2 separate regions of the Homo sapiens genome follow, and region 1 is linked to region 2. Evidence: fine-mapped expression QTL. A gene starts in region 2. The other region holds a variant in brackets. All regions are shown on one strand. Distances are from middle to middle.

The links. PIP is the estimated chance that this variant, and not a neighbour inherited with it, causes the effect. A credible set is the group of variants that fine-mapping cannot tell apart.
Region 1: its variant is the best candidate, but not a certain one, in a credible set for the expression of ACAD8 in monocytes after LPS (Kim-Hellmuth 2017, PIP 0.51).

The regions. Positions count from the first base shown.
Region 1 is chr11:134,227,527-134,232,526 of GRCh38, forward strand. All of the region lies in intron 1 of VPS26B (VPS26 retromer complex component B), which reads left to right. Among named protein-coding and RNA genes, the nearest start is that of VPS26B, 5.4 kb to the left of the region's middle. The variant G/A (reference allele first, on the strand shown) is at 3,079.
Region 2 is chr11:134,251,326-134,256,852 of GRCh38, forward strand. ACAD8 (acyl-CoA dehydrogenase family member 8) reads left to right here and starts at 2,243. Exons shown (of 11, transcript NM_014384.3): 1 at 2,243-2,384; 2 at 5,223-5,323. The coding sequence starts at 2,276. THYN1 (thymocyte nuclear protein 1) reads right to left here and starts at 2,027. Exons shown (of 7, transcript NM_014174.3): 1 at 1,515-2,027. The coding sequence starts at 1,557. RefSeq lists an enhancer at 1,788-2,157.

The DNA of each region.
Region 1 (5,000 bases), 24 kb before region 2:
ACTGCTTGCTGTTCCTGCCCCACCTGATTTCTTGTCTATCTCCTTACTCCTGAGACATCCATCATCCCTGCTGAATTTTCTCAGAACCTTTTGTTGCTTCCACTAGTAACTCTTCCCGGGCCCTTGGCCACCCTGCACTGAGTTGACCATGAGACTGGGGGAATTTAGCCACTCTCTGGGCCTCGGCTTTCTCAGCTACCAAGCAAGGAAAATAACATCACTTGGTGAGAATGTTGGGCATGCCAGGGGATCATGCATGACCCTTATAGAGGGTTCCTTTATAAAATTATGGTAGTTGTAGTAAAATGTTTCCATTTCACAAATTGAGTTATCACCCACTGGCTTGCTGCTCTTCCTCCTGTACCTGTTTTACCTGAAGAAGATCGCCCTGTCTACTGATAAGGAGTGCATGTTTCAACCCTTTGCCTTAAATTTCTTACTTTGGCCACATGGGCCAGTCTCAGTTGGTGTTGTAGATGGAGCCAGTCCCAGCTTTGTGCTGAAGTATATTGTTCACGCTCAATTATCCATGGTTACGTGAGGACATGGAAGTAGAATAACACAGAATGATGGACAATATGTTTCTGATTATTTGGCTTTGGGATGTATTTCTTGATCAAGAACAAGGCATTAGAATAACCTTTGTAGTTCTATTTGATGTAAAAGGGAGTTTGTGTTCCTGAAATACACACATGGACAGGGAGTAAAGATGTACTATTTGGAAGTCTATTTGGAGGCACAGAGTGACTTTTCTTAGACAACATGTTTCTTATTATTTGGCTTTGGGATGTATTTCTTGATCAAGAACAAGGCATTAGAATAACCTTTGTAGTTCTATTCGATGTAAAAGGGAGTTTGTGTTCCTGAAATACACACATGGACAGGGAGTAAAGATGTACTATTTGGAAGTCTATTTGGAGGCACAGAGTGACTTTTCTTAGACAATATGTTTCTTATTATTTGGCTTTGGGATGTATTTCTTGATCAAGAACAAGGCATTAGAATAACCTTTGTAGTTCTATTCGATGTAAAAGGGAGTTTGTGTTCCTGAAATACACACATTGACAGGGAGTGAAGATGTACTATTTGGAAGTCTATTTGGAGGCACAGAGTGACTTTTCTTAAACTCTTATATTCCTCCTATTTTATCTTCCTGGTTCCCCGAAAGAAGCATGTTGTGAAGTATTTGTGTCATACACCTGTGTCAGTCATTGTAAACTGAGCTTGGGGCACCAGAGCGAGGCTAGTGAGTGAGTTTGCTGAAGCTGCGGTCGTGTGGTTTTCTCCTTCATTGCATTCTTTGACTATGTGTGAGATGGGTGGAACTTCAGTCTGTTCTGAGGTCTGGCTGACGGGGTGGCATATGGCAGTAATCAAGTTGATAGCACTGAGCTCTGTCCCTCTTCCTTGTTAATTTGGAGGCAGGCAGGCAGAGGTGTCACTTTTATCCTGTCACTTGCTGTGGCAATCTCATCTGCACCGATGACTTATTTTCTTTGTTTTTTATTTAAAAAATTTTTTGAGACATGGTCTCACTCCGTCACCCAGGCTAGAGTGCAGTGCCACGATCACAGCTCACTGCAGCCTCAACCCCCTGGGCTCAAGCAATCCTCCCATCTCTGCCTCCCAAGTAGCTGAGACTACAGGTGCATGCCACCATACCCAGCTAATTTTTTAAATTTTATGTAGAGACAGGGTCTGTCTTTATTGCCCAGGCTGGTCTGGAACTCAAGCGATCCTCCTGCCTTGGCCTCCCAGAGTGCTGGGATTACATACATGAGTCACTGTGCTGAGCCCCATGAATTATATTCTGATGACTCCCAGACTGTTTCTTTGTTCTGACCCGACCTCTCTTCTGAGTTTCACACGTCTTTGAAGCTGTCTGCTAGACATGTCCACCGGGATACCCTACAGGTGCCTCAGTAATGCATGCAAACACAAACCCCTCTCTCTGTCTCTGCTTCAGCCACAGCCCCACTGCGTCTCCTTTTTTCCCCATTTCGGCCTATGTCAGCTGGGATCATTTAGCCTCAGAAATCTAGAAGTCATTTTGAAGTCTTGGCTCCTCCTCCCACACATGCAGTTGGCTGCTAAGTTTTGGCCTTCTCTGCTGGTTCTGCAGTATATCTCAAACCAGTGTCTCCTCTCTCTTCTCAATGCCACTGCCTTTTATTTTCTGTTTGTAGCAGCTTCCTAAGTGGTCTTCCTGCCTTTGTCTTCCTCCCCTTTCAGGTCATTTTCTGTGAGGATGAAGTTTCTTAAAGGCAGTTCTATCATTGTCAGTCCTTTCTTAAAATTCTCGCCTCCCTATTGGTTAATGGGGGAAAGTATATCCAAATCCCTCCTGCTCTGGCCCTCCCTCTCTTTCCAGCCTCGTCTCCCCTAACCCTTCACTCTCACCGCTTGTGGGTTCCACAAACTATCCTTTTCTTCTGGAATCTTGGTATTTTCCCTTTGTATAGTAACATCTTTCTGCAAGATATAACCTTCCACCCAAGCTCTTACTCCTTCAAAGCCTAGCTAACATCACATCCATCAGAAAGTCTTCTCTGACTTCCCCAGGCTGACTTAAGTGCTTCCTCCACTGTTCTTCCAGAGGCCTCATTAATACCTCTTTTCAAGCCGGGTATGACAAGCTTGTGACTTTTTTAAAAAACTTGTCTGTCTTTCTTACTAATTTCTGAGCACCTGAGATCCAGGGACTGCCTTCAGCCCATCATTAGTGCAGTGGCTAGCACATAGAAGGTGCCTAGTAAATATTTGTTGAATGGATATATTGGTCAAATCTAAGAATTTACAGAAACTATTCTTTGTTGTTGTTTTGTTTCATTTTGTTTTCTTTCCTTTTCCCACATCTCCTCCCAGATAAGCAAGAGTTGTTTTAATGAAAGAAAGACAGAAATCAGGTTTGTTTTGGTGGTTGAGCAGCTGAGCTTCCTGCCTTTGTTGTGGAGGAGGCATTGATGAGCAACATGTGGTTGTCCATCAAGGCCACTGACAACTCGGTGACTCTCCAGCTGGTGTGCCCCCACTGGGGCTGCGTCCTCACTGGGGGAACTGGGATAAGGAAGTATTAAA[G/A]CTGATGTCAGTTTACCTGCCTTTACATCTTTCTTTCCTCACACTCTTCTGTGCCAAGTTGAAACTGATATCCCCTTGTGTGTAAGAACGTAAGAGTTGTCAAACCTCTGGCCCGTTTGGTCCTGCACCACTGCTCAGATGTGGCAGTTTGAACGTTGCCTCCTGAGACTATAATATCTTATTTATTCACTTATGTGGTGGACGTTTTTCTGTTATCCTCTGCAAGTTTTCGAGCCACACTGGGATCCTTCCTGTACCTAGGATACTTTTCCAGTGGCTTGGTCTGTGTTCTAACAATGCCAACACATGTGGTGAGGGCATCTCTTGGGTCAGGCCCATGGGACAGAAAGGTCTAAGACCTAGTCATCCTACTGGCCCACGTCTTTAGGAAGATGCAGTAGTCTGTAAGGAGCACTGCAAGGAAAAACTGTAACTGTGAGAAGAAGAGACCGTTGTTGAGCTGGAATCCTTTGGGGAACACCAGTGAAGTTTAGAAAGCAGACCTGGGCCGCCTTGGAGACTAATGGGTTAAATAAACCAAACGTAATTAGAAGGTCAGACATGCGGAGGAGGGCAGACAGGAACATCCCTGCACTCCAAAGCCAACAGACATTATCTGGATTTTTTTTTTTTTTTAGGTTTTAATAAGCCCATTAATACCAATCAAGCCCATACTTTTAAAAACTCCAGGGGCTTTCTGTATTTTAATTCATTAGCCCTTGAAACACTAAGTAAAAGGCACATTAAGATGAGGTGGATTGATTCTGGCCTACTTAACAAGCTGCTGGTGGGACTGGAGCAGAGCTGCGCCTGGTGAGGCGTGGGCCGCTCAGAGGTGCCAGTGCTTCTGGGTTTCACAGGGTTGGCAGACAGGAGTAGGGTGTGGTAAGCACGAATCCTGACAGTGGCCAGCCAGCAGACAGTGGCTGGGAGGGTCAGATGAAGAGGAGGCTCTTTGGAGGGCTTTTTTTTTTTTTTGAGACGGAGTCTTGCTCTGTCGCCCAGGATAGAGTGCAATGGCACAATCTCAGCTCACTGCAACCTCTGCCTCCCGGATTCAAGCAATTCTCCTGCCTCAGCCTCCCGAGTAGCTGGGATTACAGATGCCCACCACCTCGTCTGGCTAATCTGTGTATTTTTAGTAGTGACAGGGTTTCACCGTCTTGGCCAGGCTGGTCTCAAACTCCTGACCTCGTGATCCACCCGCCTTGGCCTCCCAAAGTGCTGGGATTACAGGCATGAACCACTACGCCTGGCCTTTGGAGGTCTTTTTATGCTTTGCTGACTTAGGTTTCTTCCAAAACTGCACGAGGCCTAGACTAAACATGGCCTTAGCCAAGCAGCAAAGCTCAGGGCGGCTGTCATGGGTGACCTGTGATGCAAAGCTGGCTCAGTTTCCTTCCAGAATGGCAAATTCACTTCTCAACTGTTGGTGGCAAGTTTCACCATGAAAACATCCTGAGTACAAAAGTTATTTCCTCCTGTTGGACTGAGAAGGAAACCAAAGACAGGATAGTTACCTTAACCAAAAACTTACTCAGTTCCTACTTCTAGCCTGACACGTCTGGTCCCTGAGGACTGGTGATTGGGAAGAATGAAAGATGACGCGTGGTTGCTTCTTTGGGACGGAATAGAGGCTATTTACAATCTCTTTAGGGCCCAGACCTCTCGTGAGAACAGCCTTGGATTTTTGTTTTAATTTATGCAAGAGGAAACCAAACTTTCTGGCAAATAGGAAGCATCGCTGTGTCTGCCCCTTTGCCCCACAGTGTTTGCAGAAGTATTGCAGATGGCTTATAAAGGATAGATTAAAAAGGCCAGGCCAGCCCTGCTGTGACTGCACACTGGCCACTCTTCCATGACATTTGATGTCAGAGCTGATATTAACATGTGTGCAGGAGGAAAGGCACTAGGGAGAACGT
Region 2 (5,527 bases):
AAAAGAAAAGATCATGCTTGTTAAAGGCAATGTTTCATAATGGAAAAAGCTTAGCTTTGGAGTCAGACCTGGATTCAAATCATGGATCCATTACCAGCTGTAGGAACTTAATCTTACTGTTAAGAAGCTTTCCTTATCTATAAAAATTAGACAAGAATACCTACCTTACAGGGTATCTTCTGGATTATCTATTCAATAGGGTAAGAACACCTTACAGGGTTGTTCAGGATTAAAGGTCCGGACAGTAGTCAATACATGTTTTCCTTTCCTCACTCTCTCTTCTATGCCTTTGCATAGGAAAGAGGAAACTGAGCACCTACTTGCAACTATTTTGAAGCTTAAATGAGGTAATACAAAGGGCCTAGACAATGCCTGGCATTACAATAAGTGCATAATAAAAGCATTATTATTCTCATCTCATACGTCTTTCCTTCTTGCTCACTGTGGCTCCTGGCCCATCTCCTTTCTGCTCCTTGAAGGTGCCAATAAAAGTTGAAAGAAACAGTTCATTCAGGACATTGTAGAAAAATGGTGATGATTCGATTTCATCCCAAGACAATCAGAATGTGCCTGGAACACAGTAGGCATTCAGTAGCTAAGTTGTTAAATTACTATATGACAGGGCCCAAGGTCTATGTGTTACCCTAACCCTAACTCGGTTAATCTACATAACCTGTGAGATGTTCTACTCTTCATCTGGGAAGCATGCTCCAGATCACACATCCAGTAATGGTGGAATCAAGATATGAGGTCAGCACCTGTCACTGAGGTCTATCTGAAGCTACTTAATGACTATACTGCCTCTGAATTTAGTCAAAGTCCCTACATCAATTGTCATTAAATACCATTTATGGCTGTCTAATGCTCTGAACCCAGCATACCTTCCTAACCTAGTTTCCTAATGGCCCCTTAGGAGTTAACAGGCCCACTGCAAACACCACATATTGATAAATAACTGCAATGTGCTGTAGTATATCTGGAACCCCTGTCATTCCCAAAAGAGGTACTTTCTGTACCTTCCAATGTTCCTCCTCCTCCATCCACTTAGAATGCCATCCATCTTTGTGATTATAAAAACGACATCACGTTTTCTTAGTACTAAACTTTGCCCGTGGAAAGTCTCCCATTCTTCAAGGCTGGGCTCAAATTCCACATCCTTCTCGAGGCCTTCCCCGTGATTCCTCCCTCCATAAACTTAACAATCCATTTTCCTGAACCCCATCACATCTGTTTGCAGTTCACCCGCAAGCAGGCGCTTTATATTCTTTAGCACGCCACCTGGTATCTCAAAGAGTCTTTGTGCACAACAACCATTGCCTGAATAAACAAGAAAAAGGAACTGTAGGTAGGAGCTTGGTGAGACAAGTAAAGAAGATGGAGAGTGATTAAGGATAATGGAGTAAAAATATCACAAAGGGTTCTCAAAAAGCAGGGAGTGAAAAATGAGTACTAAACAGGCTCTTCGAGAAAAGTTTTTTCTTGGGCTGCCTTTGTGCAGCCTAGGGGCAGCTCACCTGAACCAGAAGTCCCAGCCAGCCTCTTCCGGGGTCTCGACATGGTCACGCTGCAGGGGACTTTAGTGCGGACGATTCTGGAATCAACGGAGATACAAGAAAGAATGCTAATGTCCTCCAAAACCCGCGCAGAGCGAGATGGAGGCAACGAGAGGCAGCCTAGAACGTCTCCAACTTTTGCGAAACACAGACGCCTACGTTTGAGCCCTCAAATCCTTCCCTCCGTTATCTGCGCCATTTCCATCTCGCATAACCTGCCCCTAAACTCTTCTCGGTTCTGTCCTTGGTCCTTCTCATCCAGGAACCCCTATCTCAGTATGTAGTTCACTGGGAAGTGGCTCCACAGAGACACTTTTGTTGGGTGAATATAAGTAAGCCTTGTGTTACCTTGTTATCCTTGCTAATTAGGATCAACTGAATGGATAATCTAGATGATGAAGTAATTTGCTGGCTACAGACCCAACACTCTGCAGACTCGACTGCGGTCCGCCTCCGCTGCGCCGCAGGCTGTGCAGCGCGACCCCCGCGGCGCTTGGTGGGCGGTGCATCTCTGCGGCGCCGAGGCCCCGAGGACTTCTGGGAATTGTAGTCCTGTCCCCTTGGGAGCCCGCCTGGCACCTGGGTTGTTAGGGCTCGTGGGAGGACTACAACCCCCAGGGTGCAGTGGGACAGGCGTTGCCGGGTCGCAGGTCCCGCCAGTGCGAGCGCAACGGAGGTCGAAGGCGTTCAGACTCTTAGCTGAACGCGGAGCTGCGGCGGCTATGCTGTGGAGCGGCTGCCGGCGTTTCGGGGCGCGCCTCGGCTGCCTGCCCGGCGGTCTCCGGGTCCTCGTCCAGACCGGCCACCGGAGCTTGACCTCCTGCATCGACCGTAAGGATCTCCTGGCGGGCAGTAGGACAGGTGTCCAGAACCCCGGCGGACATATGTCCGCGAGGGGCTGCAGTCTCCCCGTTCCATCCAGTCACCCCGGCGTCAGCTCCCCTTCCGGCCAGTCACCCCCCCGGCCTGGCTCCCTACTCCGGCCGGTCACCCCCGGCCTGGCTGCCCCCTCCGGTCGGTCACCACCATCCGGGTCCCCATCTGGCCCGTCACCCCTGCCCGGGTCCTCCTCCGGCCGGTCACCCCCGCCCCGGTCCTCCTCCGGCCGGTCACCCCCGCCCCGGTCCTCCTCCGGCCGGTCACCCCCCGCAGGTTCCCCTCCGGCCGGTCATCCCCCCGCAGGTTCCCCTCCGGCCCGGGTCCTCCTGCGGCCGGTCACCCTCGGATGCTTAGAGAAGTGAAGAAACTTGGGGCTTGGTTGTTGTTGGGTTGGTTGGTTTTTAATCATAACAGTAGGTCATAAAAGCAGTGAGAATATAAGAAGCTGGCTGGGTGCTGATGGTGACAACTGCACAAGAACTCCAGGTCATACAAGATTTGCTCACACACAAAGATTTGGTATCTTAACACCTCTGGCTATAAGACACTTTTAGTGTTGAAACTCATGCAGGAAAAATAATTATTATTGCCAGTGGGAAACTCTACCAGAGCTGACAAACTTGAGTGTCTTTAGGCTCTGAACAGTAATTTGAATGTAGCGAGGAGTGGTGGAGACCCGGCCAGTTTGTGACTTCTCTGCCAAGAATGTTTATAAACACTTTTTTCTTCTGAAATATTTTTAAATTTATTTTAAATAAATGGCAGTTTTCTTTACAACAGAATAAGTCCCTTAGATATCAGATCTATAAAGTACAGTAAGGCATAGAATACTGTTTTCTTCTGAATGTCCTAAAACTCATTCAAGAGGTGCTGCCCTGGCCTAGCGCTTAGAATTTGATAACCCAGATTACCCTGGTTGATACCGAAGCAGATAAGGAATTATTTAGAGGTGGGTTTTGTTATTGTTTGCATCTTGCTTACACTTGAGTGGCTCTGCAGTCAAAGGCTTTTCCCATTTCATTTGGAGTGTTTTTCTATTTAGCTTTACCTTTTTAGTGTATATGTATTGGCATCTTGAGCTCTGCTAGTAACTATGTATTGGCATCTTGAACTCTGCTAGTAACTGGCAAAGTTCATGAGTGGTGGTATTTGTTTTGTTTTTATACTGTATTTCCTTCTGGGAACTTGTGTTTACTTATGCATATGATTTGCATAAAACTATTTCCTTCCATTAGAATGCAACTCAGATTTATTTCTTAAGCCTGTGGTTCCTTGAACTATTTGTTTTAGGAAGTAGCCATTTACAGAAGAAGAAGATTTGTTAACATTTAATGAGCTCTTGCTAGGATTGAAATAGTCATCCTTTGTGTGAATGGATCTTATTTATTTATTTTTTTGAGATGGAGTCTCTTTCTGTTGCCCAGGCTGGAGTACAGTGGTGCGATCTCAACTCACCGCAACCTCTGCCCCACGGGTTCAAGCAATTCTTGTGCCTCAGCCTCCCAAGTAGCTGGGATTACAGCACATGCCACCATGCCCAGCTAATTTTTATATTTTTAGTAGAGACGGGGTTTCACCATGTTGGACAAGCTGGACTTGAACTCCTGACCTCAAGTGATCCACCTGCCTTGGCCTCCCCAAAGTCTGGGATTACAGGCATGAGCCACTGCGCCTGGCTGGATCATATTTATTTTTGTAACCCCAGCACTGCTACCTAGTAAACACCCAATAAACATTCTTTTGGAAATGATCTTTGAGCCATGGTCTACAGTAACAGCAACCCTTGTACAAAATTGTGTGAATAAATGGCCTGACCCCAGTCAGAGAACCATGAATTGTTTATCCCTAACTCTGTTCCTGAGGGTAATACCCAACATAGGTTTCTGCTCTGAGTTTCTCAAGGCAGCCTAATCGTTAATCCTCAGAACTCTTCATTTCTGACTTTCCCATTTTAATGAGAGTACTGATCACAGAAAGCAGTGCCCTCTCCAGGCTCGCATAGCCAGCCATTACTGATGCCCAGATTTGCCCCAAGGAACAGACTCTGGCACCTGCCCTTGTGTTCTTCTGTGAGGACTGCATCGCTTGTAGGCACTGAAGTAAATTATTGCCAAGTGTGGCGCCATAGTCTTCCCATAGTGCTCTTTTTTCTTTTTTTCTTCTTTTGAAACAGAGTCTTGCTCTGTCACCCAGGCTAGAGTGCAATGGCACAATCTCAGCTCACTGCAACCTCTGCCTCCTGGGTTCAAGCGATTCTCCTGTCTCACCCTCCCAAAGTAGCTGGGATTACAGGCATGCGCCACCACACCCAGCTAATTTTTGTATTTTTAGTAGAGGCGGGGTTTTTCCATGTTGGTCAGGCTGGTCTTGAGCTCCTGACCTCAGGTGATCTGCCCGCCTCGGCCTCCTGAAGTGCTGGGATTATAGGCGTGAACCATCACGCCCAGCCCATAGTGCTCTTCAGTGTCAGTTATAATGACCAAAGTTCTAGCACTGTGGCCTCAACCTCTAGGTCTACAACTGCATTTTACTAAGTGCTAGGATAAGAGATGTCTGGAAGTCCCCTATCCTGTTCTAGGTTGATCTGGATGTGTGCTAGAACTGTCCTTTCTCCATATGACAAGTGGAATAACGACAGAAGCTGCCATTCTCTAGCTGTTAAAGGCTATACCGTGTATGGGAAATACTACAGTAGATCCACTTTCACAACTTCGTGGTGCTTCTTGTTGGCAACACCTTGTTGGCAACACTGACCCTGTCCTAGAACAGTATATGCAATCCTGCCCACAGCTTCCATGGGACTTAATGAAGAGCAGAAAGAATTTCAAAAAGTGGCCTTTGACTTTGCTGCCCGAGAGATGGCTCCAAATATGGCAGAGTGGGACCAGAAGGTAGGCGTTTTTCTTGTGCTTAGACGTTCTAACAACAGATGTCTCAGGCAGACCTTTATCTTTGTCTCCTGATAATGTAATTGTTAAATGTCTCCTCCACTTACCAACTCTTACTGCAAGTGAGAATACCGGTAGTGGATGATTTTTCCTAGAAGGCATCCTGATCATCTTGTACATAACTTTTTTTTTGTTAGTTGAATAAAG